Linked DNA regions of Homo sapiens: regions 2 and 3 are each reported to be linked to region 1. Evidence: microRNA targets listed by miRTarBase, many of them from high-throughput screens and not tested one by one. Region 1 holds a microRNA gene; each other region holds the end of a gene's coding sequence.
The links. The annotated mature microRNA hsa-miR-635 reads ACUUGGGCACUGAAACAAUGUCC and lies in region 1 at 1,527-1,549, opposite strand. An mRNA with a match to its seed (bases 2 to 7 or 8) in the 3' UTR can be bound and repressed. Matches are read on the target gene's strand: a 7mer-m8 pairs with bases 2 to 8, a 7mer-A1 pairs with bases 2 to 7 and ends in A, and an 8mer does both.

Region 1 (5,000 bases):
CAGGGAAGTGTCAGTATGTGTTCTGAAAAGATCACTAGTGATGACCCGCGTTCTTAAGGCAGCGGCTCACAGAGCTCCTGTAGCAGACTACTCAGGCAAGCCTATGTTTGTTCGTCACTACAAGAGAGGCGATTTTAACCAAGCTGAGACTCCAAGAGCCTTTTGTGGTCCTAGAAGATTTTAAGGAATGTGAGTAAAGATGTGAATTCTGCACAGAGATTTGCAATAGGCATGACAATTCAGAATAAGGAGACAGAGAGGAAGTTCCCTAGCATCCCTCGCTGAACATTTCTGCCAATTCAGGCATGACTGAGATGGGCCATATTGATAGAGCATCCCAGGAGCATGCATGCCTCTGGTCCTTACATGGTGAGATGGAGAAGCCTGCCTGCTACTGAGACAGTGCCTTAGTGGGAGCACTGCCCCTCATCACCATCTACCTGCAGGCTGGAGGGCAGACTGAGAGGTTGGTGGCTGCCACGACACAGCCCTGCACACAGGGGCTGCTTGACACTCACAAGGGTCTAACACCTGTTCTAGGGACCTTGTTCAGTGACCACTCTCACTGGCAGGAAGTATTTCTTGCGTATAAATAAGAATTCCTGATGCAATTTCAACCAACTTTCACTCATTTGGTCCTTAGGAGGGAGAAGAAACAACTGGCTCATGCCCAGCTTCCTGGCACTGAATGGGCACACAGGCCTCAGGACAAACTTTCTTACTGGTTCTTCAATTAAGCACCTCCCCTTTTCCTTTTTACCCCAAATAAATGATCTGCACAAGGTACCTATTATTTTATACAGGTTCTTTGGCAAGGAACTACCTCCTAGATACTAATATCCACATTACCCCAATTCTGTAACTATAAGAGGTTGCAAGGCTTACTGCGATTACAATTAAGAATCTAATAATATTTTATAGTAGTTACAGACTTTTACCAAAATTAGTGAAACGGAACCTAGTGAGTGTCTGGATGTGGTAAACCCTGACAGAGTAGAATGGTCACATTTGTCCCCACGGTGTCTGACCTAGAGTGCTCTGGATCCTGGAAGCCTCGACTTCAGGTAAATAACCACCGCCTCTTGAGGGTGCAGAAGAACGCCCTTTAAGGCCAGTTGGGGCCATGAGAACCCAAAGGTAAAACAACTGGTTTATAGTTAGGCAGCATGCCAACAGAGGTTTTGAAGTTTATAATTAGTATTTTTAAGAACAACTGCTCTCCGCCACTGAGATATAAACTTCACTTGCCAGCCACGTCTCTGACAACCTGCCTATTGAAAGCCAGAAATGTAAAAGCTCACGCTGCGACCGACCCGCAGAGCCGATGTGGGAAATCACAAAACAACAGCCCCAGCCCTGCATGCAGGGCCCCACCGCAGCTTTGTTTTCTAAGCCAAATGTGCTCACTAGAGGGTTCCACGGATCTGCGGGAGAAAGAAGCCAGACCTGCACTCCATCCTTTTACAATTGGAAGCTCAATGGACACAAAACAATGATCAGGAGAAGTTTCCATAACAAAGCCTAATGGACATTGTTTCAGTGCCCAAGTGGCAGCTCCTCTCTGGCTCTAGGAGCTGATGCTCCAAGTCTTGGCCCAAACACTACTTCCGGCCGGGTGCGGCGGTTCACGCCTGTAATCCTAGCACTTTGGGAGGCCGAGACGAGTGGATCACTTGAGGTCAGGAGTTTGAGACCAGCGTGACCAACATGGTGAAACCCCGTCTCTACTAAAAATACAAAATATTAGTTGGGCATGGTGGCGCACATCTGTAATTGCAGCTACTCGGGAGGCTGAGGCAGGAGAATTGCTTGAACCCAGGAGGCAGAGGCTGCAGCGAGCCGAGATCACACCACTGCACTCCAGCCTGGGTGACAGAGCAAGACTCCGTCTCAAAAACAAAACAAAACAAATCAGTACTTCCATCTCGAAATGATTTCAGGTTGACTATCTGGGATGTTTTGACTGAAGCTCACAAGAGCGGTCTATATGTTACTCCAGATGGGAGCCTGAAGAATCAGCAGTTAAGGAAGCCCCAGCAGGCTCTCAGGAGGGAATCTTGTCTTCAGTTCCAGGTGATGGAAGAAGCCACGCCCAGCACTCAGCCAGCCCCGAGGGCCCTAGCTGTGGGAACAGGCTGAGCAGGTTGCTGGGAAACCCAGCTAAAGGTGCTCGGGCAAGCTCCTGCCCTGCACCTGCTGCCCTCCACAGAGCACACAATTGCTTTTCTTTTCTTTTTGAGATAGAGTCTCACTCTTTCACCTAGGCTGGAGTGCAGTGGCACAATCAGAGCTCACTGCAGCCTCGACCTCCCAGGCTCAGGTGATCCTCCCATCTCAGCGTCCCGAATAGCTGGGACTACAGGCACGTGACACCACACCCGGCTAATTTTTTCTTTTCTTTTTTTTTTTTTTTTTTGGTGGAGATGGGGTTTTGCTGTGTTGCCCAGGCTGGTCTCTAACTCCTGGGCTCAAGCAATCCTCCAGCCTCGGCCTCCCAAAGTGCTGGGATTACAGGTGTGAGCCACCGCACCCGGCCACTTGTTTCTTAATGAGTGTCTGCAACTGCTGGGGAGGTGCGGGTCTGCCGGCCAGAGCTGCAGGTAAGTGAGGGTCAAGCTGGTTCACAGAGTGCAGCAACTCAGCTCAGAGTCCTGAACACACAGCCCAGCCCTCTGAAACCATCCCCTCCAGCACAAGGAAGGCAGCATTCTGCAAACGCATCCATGGGAGCCTCAGGAAAATAAGTTTTAGACAAGTCACGTGTTCCTACCTTCCAGGCAGCAAAGTCAGTGCTACAGAAGCAAAGTAAGGGATCGCAGGCCTCTGGCTGGAGGGAGGCCACCAAGACTCCCTGGATTAGTATTCGGTGACTCTAATGCCATCAGGGTTTAGCTCGACACCTAAAGCCTACTCTGTAGGATTCGAAGCACACAGTACAACAAATATCCTATGGCTTTCCAAATACTAGAGCAGAGAATTAGTTGTTATAGATTAGAAAACAGGGAAAGGGACTCTGCCTCTCGTATGAGGCGAAGGTTTCCTTCTAAGCACACAGACTGAGCCGCCCAGTTACGGGTTCCTAATGCTCACAGGAGGAAACTCATTCTCATCATCAAGACACACTGGTCCCGTCGCAAACTCATGTTCAGGAATAACTTCTCCTCGCAGCGCCCCGCCGTCCTCAGAATAACCTGGAAACCAAGAAAGAGACATGAAACAAGCACTGGGGATCTGCTTTTATGCCATGACCTGGCGGGTGGGGAGCGGGGGCTCAAATAAAGGGCAAAGGAAGCAAAGGGGCTGTCTGTCTTCCCCCTGGAGGTACTGTGCCTAGGACAAGTCATAATCCTCACCATCTGCCATCTTTAAGCCTGACCTGCCTTTCCACTTCAGATGCCTGAGGCATCCTACCTCTTTGAATTTTTCTTTGTTGAGGTAGGGTCTCAGTATGTTGCCCAGGCTGGTCTCGAACTCCTGAGCCTAAGGGATCCTTCTGCCTCAATTTAACTTCCTGAGTGGCTAGGACTACAGGCTCTTTGGAAATTTTAGTTTAGTTTTTATTTTTTGAAACAGAGTCTCACTCTTTCACCCAGGCTGGAGTGCAGTGGTATGATCTCAGCTCACTGCAATCTCCGCCTCTCTGGTTCAAGCAATTCTCCTGCCTCAGCCTCCGGAGTAGCTGGGATTGCAAGTGTGTGCCAACATGCCCAGCTAATTTTTCTATTTTTTAAGTAGAGATGGGGTTTCACCATGTTGGCTAGGCTGGTCTCAAACCCCTGGCCTCCAGTGATCCGCTGGCCTCAGCCTCCCAAAGTGCTGGGATTACAGGTGTGAGCCAATGTGCCTGGCCTCATTGGAATTTTTGAAGAGGCAAAGGGTTAACACCACTTGTTAGGAAAAAGACCGTATCGTGTGATGCCTTGCCAGGTTGAGGGTCCCAGGTTTAAAGGCTATTACCATGGCCTCACCTGTGAGAAAATAAAAAATTCAAGGAGAGCACTCCACCCCCAGGTAACAGTGAAGGGGGAAGGGGAGGGAGGGCACTCCACCCCCAGGTAACAGTGAAGGGGGAAGGGGAGGGAGCGTGCAGGGAGAAGGGGAGGGAGGTCACTGTTGGAGATGCTCCCCTGTTGGCCCCGTGTCCACCCACCTGGCACCGTGGAGGCTGAAGATGCACTTGGTCTGGCTACGGTCGCTGCATAAGACTGAGGTAAGGAAGGTCTGAGGTCATTTTCTTTATTCTCTTCTGTTGTTCCTGAGCCAAGCAAGCTACTTGTGACAATCAAGAGGAGGTGAAAGAAAAAAGAAATCATCATATATCTAGGACACCTTCCAAAGGAAAAGCATGAAGAAGCCTGTGCTCAGCTCTGTGGGTTATTTATTTATTTTTGAGGCAGGGTCTTGCTCTATTGCCCAGGCTGGAGTGCAGTGGCGCAATCTCGGCTCACTGCAACCTCCGCCTCCTGGGTTCAAGCGATTCTCCTGCCTCAGCCTCCCGAGTAGCTGCGACTACAGGCACCCACCACAGCGCCTGGCTAATTTTTGTATTTTTAGTAGAGACTGGGTTTCACCATGTTGGCCAGGCTGGTCTCGAACTCCTGACCTCAGGTGATCCGCCCGCCAACTCTGTGGGTTTAAATTGTAGACCTACCCACACGCTGCTGGGCCAGGATGAGCTGAAGTGACCTGCAACTGCCAGGGGCAGTCACACACCGTCAAAATGGCCTCTTTCTCTTACATTGGCTAGACAAAGATTAGTCCTCTGCTCTTCCCAGTACACACAGGTGAGGACATGCTAGCAAGGAGAGCAGCCATCGGTGGGGGGCGGTGGCAGCTCTGGTGCCCTGGCCACAGCAGGAGAGCTCAGTCTGTGCCTGTTCACAGAAGGCATGAGTGCTTTTCTTTTGTTTTCTTTTCTTTTTTGAGACAGGGTCTCACTCTGTTGCCCAGGCTGCAGTGCAGTGGTGTGACCACAGCTTACTGCAGTCTTGACCTTCCTG
Region 2 (6,951 bases), not on the chromosome of region 1:
GTGCAGGAGTTCAAGGTTACAGTGAGCTATGACTGCCACACTGCACTCCAGCCTGGACTACAGTGAGAGCCTGTCTCAAAAACCAACAAGCAAAATACCCACCCACACACAGCTTAGTTTACATATATAGCAAAAATCTTCTTCCAAGCCACCTAACTCCTTTGTATATTCCTTGCCCTCAAATTTACTCAAAATAGTATCTCCCTTTTTTTAATATTTTGGAGACTCTTCCATAAATATCTATTGAGAACACACTATGTGTGATTTCCATGTATTTATTTATTTTACTTAATCCTCACAGCCATTATGTAGACGAGGAAAGTGAAGCTCAGAGATGGGAAGTCACTTGCCTGAAGCCGCAGGTTGGTAAACATTAGACTCTAGGTAATTTGATAATTTGTGTCCATTTATGAAGTGCCTGCTGTAGCCAGGCCCTCAGGATTGTCCCAAACCTTTATAGTCACTCTTACAACAAATACTGAGTGCCTTCATGTTTCAGGCAATGGGCCAAGTGTTGGGGCTACGGTGGAGAGGAAAACAAAGGCTTAGCCCATGGTTGAGGGAGGTTCAATTGTTCACCCCATTTTTCAGGTAAGAAAACCAAGGAAGAGAAGGGAAAGAAAGTGTCCTGAGATCACACGGTCACACGAAAATAGCTGAGGCACGGCGCGGTGGCTCACGCCTCTAATCCCAGCACTTTGGGAGGCCGAGGTGGGAAGATTGCTTGAGCCTGAGTTCGAGACCAGCCTGAGCAAGAGTGAGAACCGCCGTTTCAACTAGGGGAAAAAAAAAAAAGCCAGGCGTGGTGGGACACACCTATATTCCCACCTGAGGTGGGAGGATCGCTTGAGCCCAGGAGGTCGAGGTTGCAGTGGGCCGTGATCGCGCCACTGCACTTCAGCCTGGGCGACAGAGTGAAACCCTGCTGCACAAATAAAAGAGAAAAGGGAAAAAGAGCGGAGACAGGCAGCCCCGCTTTACAGGTAGGGAAAGTGAGGCACAGAGAAGTAAAACGACCTACCCAAGGAAACCCATCTAGTAAAGGCAGGGACCGGGATCGCAGGCTCTTGGAGCTCACCAGTCCCCGCCGGGCGGTGCTTGGCCCCTCCTTCCCCTCCGGCGGGCGTGGCCCGGCCGGGCCCGCCCCCTCCCCTGCGCGCGTTCCTGGCAGCCCGGCCGGCGTTTCCTGCCTGCGTCGCTGAGCTGGCGGGCGGGCAGCCCATCTGGCGGCCCCCGCGGGGCGGCGCGGGGAGGCGGCCCAGACTTGCTGGAGCCAGGCGCCGGCCCGGGGGCCCCCCTGCCCGCCTGGAGAACCCAGGTGTGGCCGCGGCGGGGGTGGGGGGTGGTGCTTTCCTTCCCGCTCGCTCGGCCCTTCCTGACGCACCAGGGCAGGATGCAGCCTCCTCCCGTCCTCTCCTCGGCCTCCGCCTCCCGCGCCCTGGCCCGGAATGCTGGAGGGAATCCAAACGCAGGGCGGGGAGGCAGGGGCAGGCCCCTGAGGCCCCGCCCCTGATAGCCATTTGATACCACCGCTAGTCTTGCCCGTGTTTGGGGTGACTCAGCTTCCCTGCTTGTGCAAGAACAGCTGAACTCTGACCTCCTGAATGGCCGACTCTTGCCTTGCTCCTCAGGGACCCCAGACACGATCGTAGGAACCGGAGGTACTACTGCCCTAAGCCATAGCGCTTGACATTATCCATTTATTCAGCAGTTTCAAGTCGCGGCAAGCGGCGTTTGACCACTTCTGTTCCCTGCCCAGTGCTTAACTGGTACCTGGTGCCGGCCTGATGGAGGCTCTGAAGGCTTTCCCTCAGAAAGCTGGACCCGCCCTGGGAAGCAGGTCCTAACCCCCCTTCACAGTCGAGCACAAGACCGCTTCATTCACACTGCAGGAGCCAGCCCTGCTGTCAGACTGACGGTGCCAAACCCCCTTCTCCAATGCTGCCCCCAAAAGGAACCAGGGATCCATTATCCTGATCATGTCAAACGGCACCACGGTGAATACGAGTCTTGGAAGCCAGACACTCTGGGTTCACATGCCCCCTGGGCCCGCCCTTACGGTCTCTGCCTCAGTTTCCCCATCGTAAGAATGATGTAGGTACCTCAAAGTGTTGTTACAACGATTAAGTAAATCTTAAGATACATTTGAAACTTGAACACGGGTTTCAATTGTGCAGGTGCACTTAAACGTGGACTTTTTTTCTACCTCTGCCACCCCTGAGACACCAAGACCAACCCCCTCCTCTTCCTCAACACAGAGACCAGGATGAAGATCTTTATTTATGATGATCCACTTTCACTGAATAATTTTTTTTTTTTTGAGACGGAGTCTCACTCTGTCCCCCAGGCTGGAGTGCGGTGGTGCAATCTTGGCTCACTGCAACCTCCGCCTCTTGGGTTCAAGTGATTCTCCCACCTCAGCCTCCTGAGTAGCTGGGACTACAGTCGCCTGCCACCATGCCAGGCTAATTTTTGTATTTTTAGTAGAGTCGGGGTTTCACCATATTGGCCAGGCTGGTCTCGAACTCCTGACTTTGTGATCCGCCTGCCTCTCTCGGCTTACTGCAAGCTCTGCCTCCCGGGTTCAGGCCATTCTCCTGCCTCAGCCTCCCGAGTAGCTGAGACTACAGGCGCCTGCCATCATGCCCGGCTAATTTTTTGTATTTTTAGTAGAAACGGGGGTTTCACCATGTTAGCCAGGATGGTCTCGATCTCCTGACCTCCTGATCTGCCCATCTTGGCCTCCCAAAATGCTGGGATTACAGGCATGAGCCACCATGCCTGGCTCTTAGGATTTTCTTAATTACATTTTCTCTAGCTTACTCTATGGTAGACAGTGTAGTACGTATAACATACAAGATGTTTTGACTGTTTATGTTATCAGGTAAGGCTTCTGGTCAACAGCAGACTATTAGTTGTTTTGCGGGACTGAAAAGTTATACAGATTTTCGACCATGATGGGTTGGTGCCCCTAATCCCTGTGTTGTTCAAGGGTCAGTTGCACTAGCATAATGCTAGTCACGTGAAATACAGTCAGTGCACACTGGGGTCTCAGCAGGGCTGGTTTTCCCCTTGGAACCCTCTCTCTTGTCGCAGTCATGGGAGACTGAGGCACAGAAACAGAATCTAATAAAGCAGGGTAGAACTTGGGTTCTAGAGCAGTTTCCTAATAATCCACCCCAAACCAGGTGAGGCTGGCATCTAGCCCACTCGGGGCCCTGCCCAACCACCCACACCCCCTCCCCAGCATGCAGGCCCAATCCTTGCCCGGCCTGGTGCCATTTTTCCATGGGACTCTGATGGTGGCGGTTCACATCTGGAGTCTAGACTCGCAGGCTCTGCGGGCCAGGCCTACCGCCTGGGCTGGGCCACCACTGCCCGCTGTTTGCTCAGCTGAAGCTGGTTAATTGGAATTACAGTGGCCTCTGCGGTGCCGGCTGGCCGGGCGGGCCCTAGTCCGCTGCTCCGGAGGTCTGTGGAACATCTGGCTGGACCAGGACAGTCATTAGGTGGCAGGCGCTCGGCGCCACTGCCACCTCAGCCTCTGCCGGGGGCTGGTGGTGACTCAATAAGGCCTTTGTGCGCCCTGGGCCGCAGAGCCAACCATGCTATGTGCCTGGGCCGCCTGCCCCATCTGCCTCAGAGGGGCCTTGTTCCAGGACCACATGGCCTCAGAGTTGGCTGGAGTGGGTAGAGATTCCAGAAGCCCCTGAAAGGGAACCCCCCTCCCTGAAAGGAAGAAGCCTTTTGAAATTTTCTACCCCTTTTCCTTCCTATAGAACCCTGGAGCCAGTAAAATTGGGTGGCTGGGGCTCAGGGATGCCCAGCACACCAGCCAGTGACTTGGTCCCAGGGGTCTGGGGAGGAGCTGCGGTCCTTAGGAACCTGGAATTGTTTGGCTTGGCTAAGGTCAAATCGATGTCCATGGGCAAGCTGCCTCAATTCCCTCATCTGCACAGCGGAGCGAATAATAGCACATACAGCCCAAGACTCAGAAGGAAGTGAAATCCTATATCAAGGTGCTTAGTGCATGTCAATACCTAGTGAGGGTATTACAGTCATACTCCTGAGTCTCTGGTCATGATTGTCCTTTGGCCACTTCCAAACTGGAAGCCACTGTTATTTTCAGCCTTTGAACCTGAAGCTTGGGCAAGGGAGAGCCCCGGGTCTGTCAGTATGGTGGCCACCCGCTCCTGTCTGTTTCCCCACTCAGTGACCTCATACCAGGTGGGTGGATGAGGGTTGTGGCCACCGTTTGCCTGGTTTGGGGTGGTGCCCGGTCGGTCTCCTGCTGGCCGGGGCTGCTGTCTTCAGCAAACTTTAGGGAAACCCGGGCGCTGAGATTTCAGCTCTTAGGCCCCAGAAGGCCTCTAAGAATCACTAGCTCAGTCCTTCCCCACCCCAGCCTCTAGAGGTCCTGGCCCTTGTGCCATGACTGGCCCCACAGTAGTCATTTTGGGAAGAAACCCAGGAATGGGCAGAATGGGAGACAAAGCCTTGATCTTCAGGGCAACCTAGAGTCTGAGCCCTCATCAGCCGAAGCCATATGGGCACAGGGACCAGGGAGGCTGGCAGGTTCTACAGTTACTGCTTCCCTTGTGAGTCAGGTCAGCCCTGGGTACTCCCCACCACTCTCACCATGGTGAGTGGGAGACTCTCATCTGCCAACACCCTTGCTGCCCCCAAGTATTTCGAGGAAGGTGGTGAGAAAAGTGCTAGCTGGTGAGAGAGGGCTCGTGGGCCCCCTCTACTGGCTAAAAGGTGTTTTACGGGTGCAGGGCTGGCCAGGCACTGGGGTGGGCACCCTTAAGGGGCTTGCAGAAAAGATTTTGGGTGGGCAGGTGAGACCTAGAAAACCCAGGGCAAGACACTGGGTGCTTAAACAGAGAATCTTCCAGGAGCACAGTGGCCCGCCCTGGCCATGGGATGAGTTTTTAATGTGAGGCAAAATCAGTCCACAATACAAAATCTAAAAATCACACCCACTTTTCCCACCTGGCTCCCGGGGAGGGGGGAAGCTGGGGGTTTCTTTTGCCTGCAGGGTGTGGGGAGGAGCAGAGGAGGGCCAAGAAAGGGAGAAGGAAACAGAGGCCACAGAGGCCTGGCTGGAGGTATCCTGCTGCCCCCTGCCCTGTCCTGGAGCTGCCCTTGGCCTCCTGTGCCCTCTACCGGTGCACGCCTGTGTGGGCCCAGCCCCCATCTGTCTGGTCTGGCCCTGAGAGGCTCGGGCACCAGCTGCATCATTTCTCTTTCTTCTCCAGCCCCTTCGATGCTGATGCCTCTGTTCCCTCTTTGGATTCTGTCACTGCCGCTGGATCCTTAGGATTTGACTCCTCATAACTGACCAAAAAAAAAAAAACAACAATAAAAATTCATTTAGAGGAGAGGGTGAGCAGAACCTTGGTTGTCCCCTTCCCCCACCCCCATCCTAGGAAAGCGCCTGGTCACATGCAGAGCGTCAGCCCTGTGTCCACTGCCCAGCACCTAACAGCGCCTGGCCCCAGCCCTACCACATGCCCTCCTCAGGCAGGCTGCTCTGCTTTCTCTGAGCCTGGGGGTACCAGGAGGCAGCAAGGGCAGCAGCCAATGGAAGAGAGGTTGGGCCTGGGCTTGTGTGGGCTGATTTCAAGCTTCCTGAACCTTCTGCTGTAGCGTGGAAAAAGGGGTGGCCATGACAAGGCTACAAGAGATGGAGATAGGCTGCCTCCCAGGGCACACAGCATGAATCAAACAGCTCAGCCCCAGAGGTGAGGGCACTGCTGTACTGGCAAGCGGCAAGGTGCTGCTCTGAAGACAGACACCCTGGCTTAGCTTCTTCTATGGGCTTCATTTTTCAAGCAACTGAGTTCATGCCAAAGATAATACAAATCTTTCCTCACCAGATAAACCCCGTGAGGCAGGAATGTGCCCACTTACAGATGAAGAAAGTAACTTGCCTAAGGTTATACATATACCTTGAATGGTAACAGTATCTACTACTGCATGACAAGGGCCATTTCCATCCACTATGATGTGGGCCCCGCATTACTGGTGAGGGCAGGAAGCTTCGGGGTTGTCCTGCTTCCCAGCCCTATGGCTCGGTGCAACCACTGCCTGGTGGTTGTGGAGGAGCTGCTCTTGCGGCCTACTCCTGGCAATGGTCCCTGCCCTATGCACTGGAGCTGCAGTGTCTGCCCTACCTTGGGCCCCGGGGCAGTAGGGGGAAGCGGGCAGGTGGGCACCCGCTGGGCATTACATGGCGCTGGGATTCTGCGGGCGCCGGCGGCGAGGGCCAGCTAGCTTCTGCTGCATGGAGTCGGCCAGGCTGGCTGGGGAGCCCGAGACTGTGGGGAAGTGGGTGAGCCTCGGGGTATGAGGCAGGATTTCCGCCGAGGACTCGTAGCTGTGTGAGAGAGAGAGAAGAGACAGAAAAAAAGAGATGGATAGGGAAAGACTAAGGGAGGACAGAGACTTCCTTTCCAAGGAGCAGAGAGCAGAACTGTCTTGTTTTTACCTATTTTTGCACTTCCAGATTTTATGGAAAGAAGCTGATATTATTTGGAGAATGAAAAAAGAAAGATGCACCTAGACAAAGGCACATCAGGCCACTGTGCAGAAGAACAAGCATGCTCTAGAAGTGTATGTGCTGCTGTGGAAACACCTCTAAGAAATACCGTAGAAACCCAATGTGCAGAATGCTCCAAGAATGCCACCGTCTGTGCAAGAAAAAGTATACACACATCAGTGCACAGGTGTCTGAATGTCTGTGTAACACTGCTGGCCTCTGTGGGGTAGCTGGAGCATGAGGGTGCTCTCTCTGTTACAGCTTTGGAATTTTTAACTATGTGAATGTGGTACCAATATAAAAATAAGTAAATCAATAAAAAAAGGAGGAGAATAGAAGGGAAAAGTAAAAAGGTGGAGAATTGGGAGAGAAATGGGGAGAAAGGAGGGAGAGAGAGAGAGAGAGAG
Region 3 (6,892 bases), not on the chromosome of region 1:
CCCACTGCAGAAGGTTTCCCTGGCCCCAAACTCTCGCTACTACCTGAGCTGCCCCATGGAATCCCGCCACGCCACCTACTCATGGCGCCACAAGGAGAACGTGGAGCAGAGCTGCGAACCTGGTCACCAGAGCCCCAACTGCATCCTGTTCATCGAGAACCTCACGGCGCAGCAGTACGGCCACTACTTCTGCGAGGCCCAGGAGGGCTCCTACTTCCGCGAGGCTCAGCACTGGCAGCTGCTGCCCGAGGACGGCATCATGGCCGAGCACCTGCTGGGTCATGCCTGTGCCCTGGCCGCCTCCCTCTGGCTGGGGGTGCTGCCCACACTCACTCTTGGCTTGCTGGTCCACTAGGGCCTCCCGAGGCTGGGCATGCCTCAGGCTTCTGCAGCCCAGGGCACTAGAACGTCTCACACTCAGAGCCGGCTGGCCCGGGAGCTCCTTGCCTGCCACTTCTTCCAGGGGACAGAATAACCCAGTGGAGGATGCCAGGCCTGGAGACGTCCAGCCGCAGGCGGCTGCTGGGCCCCAGGTGGCGCACGGATGGTGAGGGGCTGAGAATGAGGGCACCGACTGTGAAGCTGGGGCATCGATGACCCAAGACTTTATCTTCTGGAAAATATTTTTCAGACTCCTCAAACTTGACTAAATGCAGCGATGCTCCCAGCCCAAGAGCCCATGGGTCGGGGAGTGGGTTTGGATAGGAGAGCTGGGACTCCATCTCGACCCTGGGGCTGAGGCCTGAGTCCTTCTGGACTCTTGGTACCCACATTGCCTCCTTCCCCTCCCTCTCTCATGGCTGGGTGGCTGGTGTTCCTGAAGACCCAGGGCTACCCTCTGTCCAGCCCTGTCCTCTGCAGCTCCCTCTCTGGTCCTGGGTCCCACAGGACAGCCGCCTTGCATGTTTATTGAAGGATGTTTGCTTTCCGGACGGAAGGACGGAAAAAGCTCTATTTTTATGTTAGGCTTATTTCATGTATAGCTACTTCCGACTGCATCTGTATGAAAATACCAAAACTACATGCGGGGGGGTGGGTGGGAAAGGGAGGGGCTGGGAAGGGATGGGTTGGGGAGCGGGGGTGATCCCAGTCTGAGGCTCCCGGGGATGAGATAAGAGTCTGGAGACGGGCATGGGTTCTTGGAGAGTGGCATGAGCTGGCTCTGCCCTGGGAGCCCGGTCTGAGGGGGACGTTGTTGGAGCCCCTAGTGTTGGGGGTGGTTATGGGAGGGGGTGGGGTGAGGGAAACGGGAGAATGAAGGAGAAAACTGAGCCCTAGTTTCACCGTGTTCATTTGGAAGGACGAGCCGGGTCCTCAGGGGGAGGTTCCAGGACTCTGCCCTTGGCGTTGAGGGTTGGGGGGCGGGGGGCCTCCTCCCTTCCTCTCAGCCCCCTTCCCCAGGGGCTGTGCTTCCATGCTCCTAGCCTCCCACCTTCGCTCAGGACATGTTATAACTTAGGCTAAACTGTGAAAATTCCGGTGGGGATGGCCTGGGCCGAGCTCTCCAGGCAGGCGGCCCTGCCCCCAGCCCTGTCCATCCATTTCAGGGGGGAGCTGGGCCCTTCTCCGGCTGTGTCTGGCCACCCAGGGCAGTGGCTGGGGCCAGTGGCCTTCCAGCTTTGGCCCCTGCACCTCTTCTCAATGCACTTTAATAATGTAACATATTACTAATAAACAAGCTATTTATTTACCTGCGCCTGTTCCTTGCCTGCAAAGCTGTCCTGGTCAGGGGGTGTTGGTGGGGGCTCCTGTTTATTACTCGCCACCCCCTGGCTGCGTGAGCATCACATGCATTCTTTCATGTCCTGGTTAGGGCCCAGGAGCCAGCTCAGCAGGGCTGTAGCTAGTGAGAGGCAGGAATGGGGACCTGAACCCACGACTCCTCAGCAGCGTGCTGCTTGCTCGAGCCTTGACCCCAGAGCCCCAATAGCACGTGCACCCCTTTTCCCCATTCCCAGCCTTCACCTCCCACCACTTCCCCCTGGAAGGCCTGGCCTGGGTCATGCTAGAAACAGCCTCAGGACTCCCTGCCTTCAAGGGGCAGTTCTGGAGGGCAAGCTGATCAAATGCGACCCTGTGGGATGCTGTGGCCTTGAGTGTGTGTGCAGGAGGCTGGTGCCGGCTGAAGAGATGTGGGAATGGGATTTGCTCCAGGCAGGGTAGGGGTCTGGGTGAGGGTTGGAGAGTAGGGAGGGACCTGTGGGGAGGGTTTATGAGTGATGAGGTAGGATTTGAGTTGTAGAAACTCAGGACTCCCTCCAAGATCAAGTAAATAGGTTTTAGAACACAGAAGTTTATGCAGGAAGGAGCCTCTGAGGCTGGGGTGGAAGGATGCAGGGGAGTTAGTTAGGAGGCTGTCTGGTGGCGGGTGGAGGTCAGGATGAGAGCAGTGGTCCTGGGATGAAGGGCAGGGACAGTAGGGAGCACTGCAGATAGAAGTCCAGATAGAAGCCCAGAGGCCTCCCCTCCCCCTTGTTCCCTTCTCTGTCCCCTGTCCCTGGAGGCAAGGACCTAGGCCTTTGGGGTCTGCTAGGCGTTTTTCCTGAGCAGTGACTGCTGGAGGGGTCCATGGCAGACTTGGGGCAGTTTACTTCTCTGTCCGAGCCCAGCTTCTGGTTGGCTCTGGCAAACCCCACAGGACTGGAATTGCCCCCACCCATAGTGCTCCCTCCCACTTCAGTTTGCTCTGCACTCTCATAGCCAGCCCATTCCTGAGGATTCTCCCCATCCTTTTCTCCCCCAACACTCGGCATGCCCTGGGGGACCAAGGTCTCAGCAGGTACATGGGACCAGGGGTCTTTGGGAGTTTGGGGGACCCAGAAGAGCCCTGGGCAGCTGGGGCAGAGACCTGGGGCTGCTGCCACCATTTTTGGCGTTTGTGGTCCTGGGCAGACCCTCGCCTTTCCCGAGCCTCATTTCTCTCCTGTGTAAAAGGCAGGGCTGGACCTGGGCTTCTGTGGACCCTTTCCTGCACATCTCGTCTGTCCCAGTCCGTCTGTATTCCAGTGCACAGCCAAGCATCGGCATCAGGATGGGGGTTTCACAGGCTCCTGCTCAGCAAGCTGGAGGCTGGTGGCAAAGCAAAGGATGGGAGTGAATTCCAGCCCCAAATGGTCTGAGCGGCGAGTGGACAAAGTGTGGGCTTAAGCCTTGGTCCCTCCTGGAGTGCTGCTGGTGGTCTCCACTGAGTTCCCTGTCCTCTCTGGGCCTCAGCAGCCTCCCTCTTTCCAGAGATGCTCCTGGTGCTCTGATGGGTCCATGGCAGGGGATTTGAGTGATGGAACCCACTCCATTGTCTCTGTGGAGGCACCAGGAGAGGCTGGGCTGGGAGGGAAGCCGTGTGCATTAAGGCATGAAATGAGCCCGTGTAAATTCCATGTAAATGAGCTGGCAGGGATGAGGCCAGCCAGGCACAAGCCTCCTGCCCTGTTTTCCCCAATGGACAAGCAGCACAGCAGGCCTCTAGCTGGCGGTGTGTGGGCAGGACGGTTAGGCTGGGCCCGGGTGGTGGGAGGATCTGCTCTAGCCATAACCACACGATATCCACAGTCCCAGCACTGGCTTCTTGAGGGCCAGGCCAGGGACCAGAGCCAGGCCAGGGGCAGGAACCAGGCCCATCCTTCTCCCCTCTCTTGTGCATTCTCGTTGGGGAGGAGGAAGAGGGACGAGACTGAAAGCTCAGCTCTCCTGGGGAAGGCAGCAGGGAACTGCAGATTTCGTTCTGCCTCCCTCCCACTTTAGGAATGTAGAGTCATTACGGTTTATCCCCCATCCACATGTCCTGTCATCCTCTCTCCCCGAGGGAAGGCTGCTGTCCTCTTGTCTCTCTGCTACATCAAATCATACCCTTCCCATCTCTCCTCAGACTTCTACCTTCCTTTGCTGGAACCGCTCTGCATTTGCTCCTGTGATTCCCTCCCCTGGAATGCCAGGAGGAAGATGCTCCCAGGCAAAGATTTCAGAATGACATGGAATTCTCCAGAGGAATCCTGGATCCCCCCTACACTAATGCCTCAGCCTGTTCACTCCTGATCTTTGGGAGGGTGCACCTGGAAGCAAGCTCTGGGGTCCCTGGGGGAGAAGGCACAGCCCCTGCCCTGGAGACACTTAAAGCCTGGTAGGGAAGGGCTGTGGGCTGGACAGTGACCATACGTGTGACGGTCCTAGGTGGGAGGTGGGAGCTCAGAGGAGGAACCTAACCCATTGAGCGGAGTGCTCAGGGAAGGCTTTGAGTAGGGCCTTAGAGGATGTGTAGAAGTTCCCCAGGAGGAGAGTGACTGAATGGAGAGGGAACAGCATTTACAAAGGCCTGGGAGTGTGAGAGGGCCTGGGGTGTTATGGGCTCGCTGGAGTAAAGTGAGCTCCATGAAGCCAGAAATCCTTGGCAGTTTTGTTCACAGCTGTATCTCTAGTACCTAGAACAGTGCCTGGCACATATTAGGTGCTCAGGACATTCTTACTGAATGAATGAATAAGATGAGAGAAGGGAGAGTATCTAGAGGTGAGACTGGATGACTCCAGCAGTTCCCGATCCTGGGAACTAAAGCAAGATCTTTATCCTGCAGACACTAGGGAGCAATTGAAGGATTTTGAGCAGGGGTGGGGTAGATGATAATGATAATAATGGTGAGGATAATGGGAGCCTGAGATCCGTGTTTTCTTACACCCCATCTCTTACACCAAAGACCCACTCCTCACCATTTCCAGGTGTTTCTAGCTCCTTAAATGGTCCAATTTTAGCCTTCTGCTTACTGGAAAAGAAAGTGCAGCCATCCTGGCTACAGTGCCAGACAGGAGGTCTGTAGGCTTGGGCCAGTGGAATGGGGCTGAAATGGCTAAATCTGGCTCGGAAACACTTTTATCTCAATATTGGTTAACTCTGGGAGGAAGAGACCTTGGGAGAAAAACAAAAACAAAATCCACATTCTCAGGGTCACCAATGGCCATGAGTCAGCCCCCACCAAGGGAAGGAGCACAGAACCACACTCGGGAGGCGCTGGCCCTGTTAGTATGCTGGGGCGTTTCTGTAGGGTGGTGTTCACACCAGAACCGCTGCACTCGAACCAAGTCAAGGTCCCAGAACTCTGGCAGTTCTTTCAAGTTGGGCAAAATAAATGAGCTCAGAAGGGCTTAGGTAGAGGTGAACACGTCCTTTGGGGCTGAGCCTATATCATGGTGGGGAAACACATGGCTTGCAGCTTGATTCAGCTGTAGCCTATGCCTGGAGCAGGCATTGCTGATCAATTGTGGCATTCCTTTCCTGAGCTCATATGAGTGATTTTCTTCAGAACTTGCATTCTCTGGGGGCTACTGGGCACTTGAAATAGGGCTCATCTGAATTGAGATGTGCTGTAAGTATAAACAACACACTGGATTTTGAAAACATAATATGAAAAAAATGACCTTAAATTTTTACATCGATTACACTTTGAAATGATAATATTAGAGGTTGGGCGTGGTGGCTCACACCTGTAATCCCAGAGCTTTGGGAGGCTGAGGTCAGTAGATCACCTGAGGTCAGGAGTTTGAGACCAGCCTGGCTAACATGGTGAAACCCTGTCTCTACTAAAAATACAAAAATTAGGTGGGCATGGTGGCGTGTACCTGTAATCCCAGTTATTTGGGAGGCTGAGGCAGGAGAATCGCCTGAACCTGGGAGGCAAAGGTTGCAGTGAGCTGAGATTGCTCCATTTTACTCCAGCCTGGGCAACAAGAATGAAACTCTGTCTCAAAAAAAAAAGAAAAAAAGAAATGATAATATTTCAGATATAAGATATATTTGGCTAGATAACATACAAAAATTAATTCCACCTATTTCTTTAACTTTTTTTGTTGTTGTTGTTTTGTTTTTTAGATGGAGTCTTGCTCTGTAGCACAGAATGAAGTGCAGTGGCAGGACCTTGGCTCACCACAACCTTCGCCTCCCAGGTTAAGCGATTCTCCTACCTCAGCCTCCCGAGTAGCTGAGATTACAGGCGCCCGCCACCACGCCCGGCTAATGTTTGTATTTTCAGTAGAGACGGGGTTTCACCATGTTGGCCAGGCTGGTCTCCAACTCCTGACCTCAAATGATCTGCCCGCCTTGGCCTCCCAAAATGCTGGGATTACAGGCGTGAGCCACCGCTCCTGGTCTTCTTTAACTTTTATCTAGTGTGGCTACTGGAACATTTTAAATTATGTGTGTGGCTCATATTGTATTTCTGTTGGACAACACTGTTACGGAATATCTGCTCTGCGGGGGCAGGGAATTTTGTCTTTTTTTGTTCACAGCTAAATTTCATAGCACCTAGAGTAGCACCTAGCACACAGTAGGTGGTCAGTAAATTATTTGTGGAATGAATGAATGGATCCTCACCAGCATTTCTCCTTAGGAGTCACCAGCAATTGATCAGATGGAACTTATTTGCTACCCCGAGCCTAGCGGATGCTACACCACAGTGCTAACAACCCCCGTTTGTGCTTTCTGACTTTAGAGCTTGTGTCGCTCTCCTGGGACTCTCCTGATACCCAGTGGGGCAGGTGAAAGTGGACTCTGGTGAATGCACTGCTCCGCTGAGGGTCTTCTGAAAGGGAACGTTTCCGTTCCTTCTGATCAGGAAGCAGGGCAGTGTGCAAATGGTATGGAAATCACTTCTTGTGGGTGTTTGCCTATCTAGGGTGCTGGGGATACTTCCAGTCCACTTCCTGACCCCAGCCCTTGGTCCCTAGAGACAAAAGAGGAAGCTCTGGAGACTTTGAGCTCTGGGGGCAGATCGGGGGAACTGGGGCCCCCTTAGTCTTTCCCCAGCGAATGAGGGCTTGTAGCCCAGAGCATCCTCATCTCTCAATTCAGCAGGAGCCTAAAAATAGTCTGCAGTTTCAGCCTCCCCCACAGCCGCCCGCGCCAAGTGGG

Region 2: miRTarBase lists HM13 as a target of hsa-miR-635. The part of its 3' UTR that is shown has no 7-base or 8-base seed match.
Region 3: miRTarBase lists SEMA7A as a target of hsa-miR-635. Seed matches in the 3' UTR shown: 7mer-A1 at 598-604 and 8mer at 668-675.

Annotation. Positions count from the first base shown.
Region 1 is chr17:68,422,985-68,427,984 of GRCh38, forward strand. MIR635 (microRNA 635) reads right to left here and starts at 1,564; the gene lies at 1,467-1,564. It overlaps WIPI1 (WD repeat domain, phosphoinositide interacting 1), which reads right to left. Exons shown (of 13, transcript NM_017983.7): 11 at 4,151-4,269; 12 at 3,091-3,191. It also overlaps a transcript of ARSG not described here and a transcript of PRKAR1A not described here.
Region 2 is chr20:31,567,509-31,574,459 of GRCh38, reverse strand. HM13 (histocompatibility minor 13) reads right to left here. Exons shown (of 13, transcript NM_178581.3): 12 at 6,236-6,382; 13 at 4,917-5,340. The coding sequence ends at 5,241. It overlaps HM13-AS1 (HM13 antisense RNA 1), which reads left to right and starts at 1,197. Exons shown (of 3, transcript NR_046853.2): 1 at 1,197-1,318; 2 at 1,537-1,661; 3 at 6,512-6,873. It overlaps LOC107985416 (a long non-coding RNA gene), which reads right to left and starts at 1,450. Exons shown (of 3, transcript XR_005647051.2): 1 at 1,022-1,450. RefSeq lists silencers at 918-1,497, 4,560-4,854 and enhancers at 1,299-1,840, 6,921-6,951.
Region 3 is chr15:74,404,087-74,410,978 of GRCh38, reverse strand. It overlaps SEMA7A (semaphorin 7A (JohnMiltonHagen blood group)), which reads left to right. Exons shown (of 14, transcript NM_003612.5): 14 at 1-1,690. The coding sequence ends at 355. Among named protein-coding and RNA genes, the nearest start is that of MIR6881, 3.9 kb to the left of the region's middle. RefSeq lists enhancers at 1,336-1,595, 1,239-1,739, 4,959-5,058, 5,079-5,148, 5,169-5,218 and 1 more.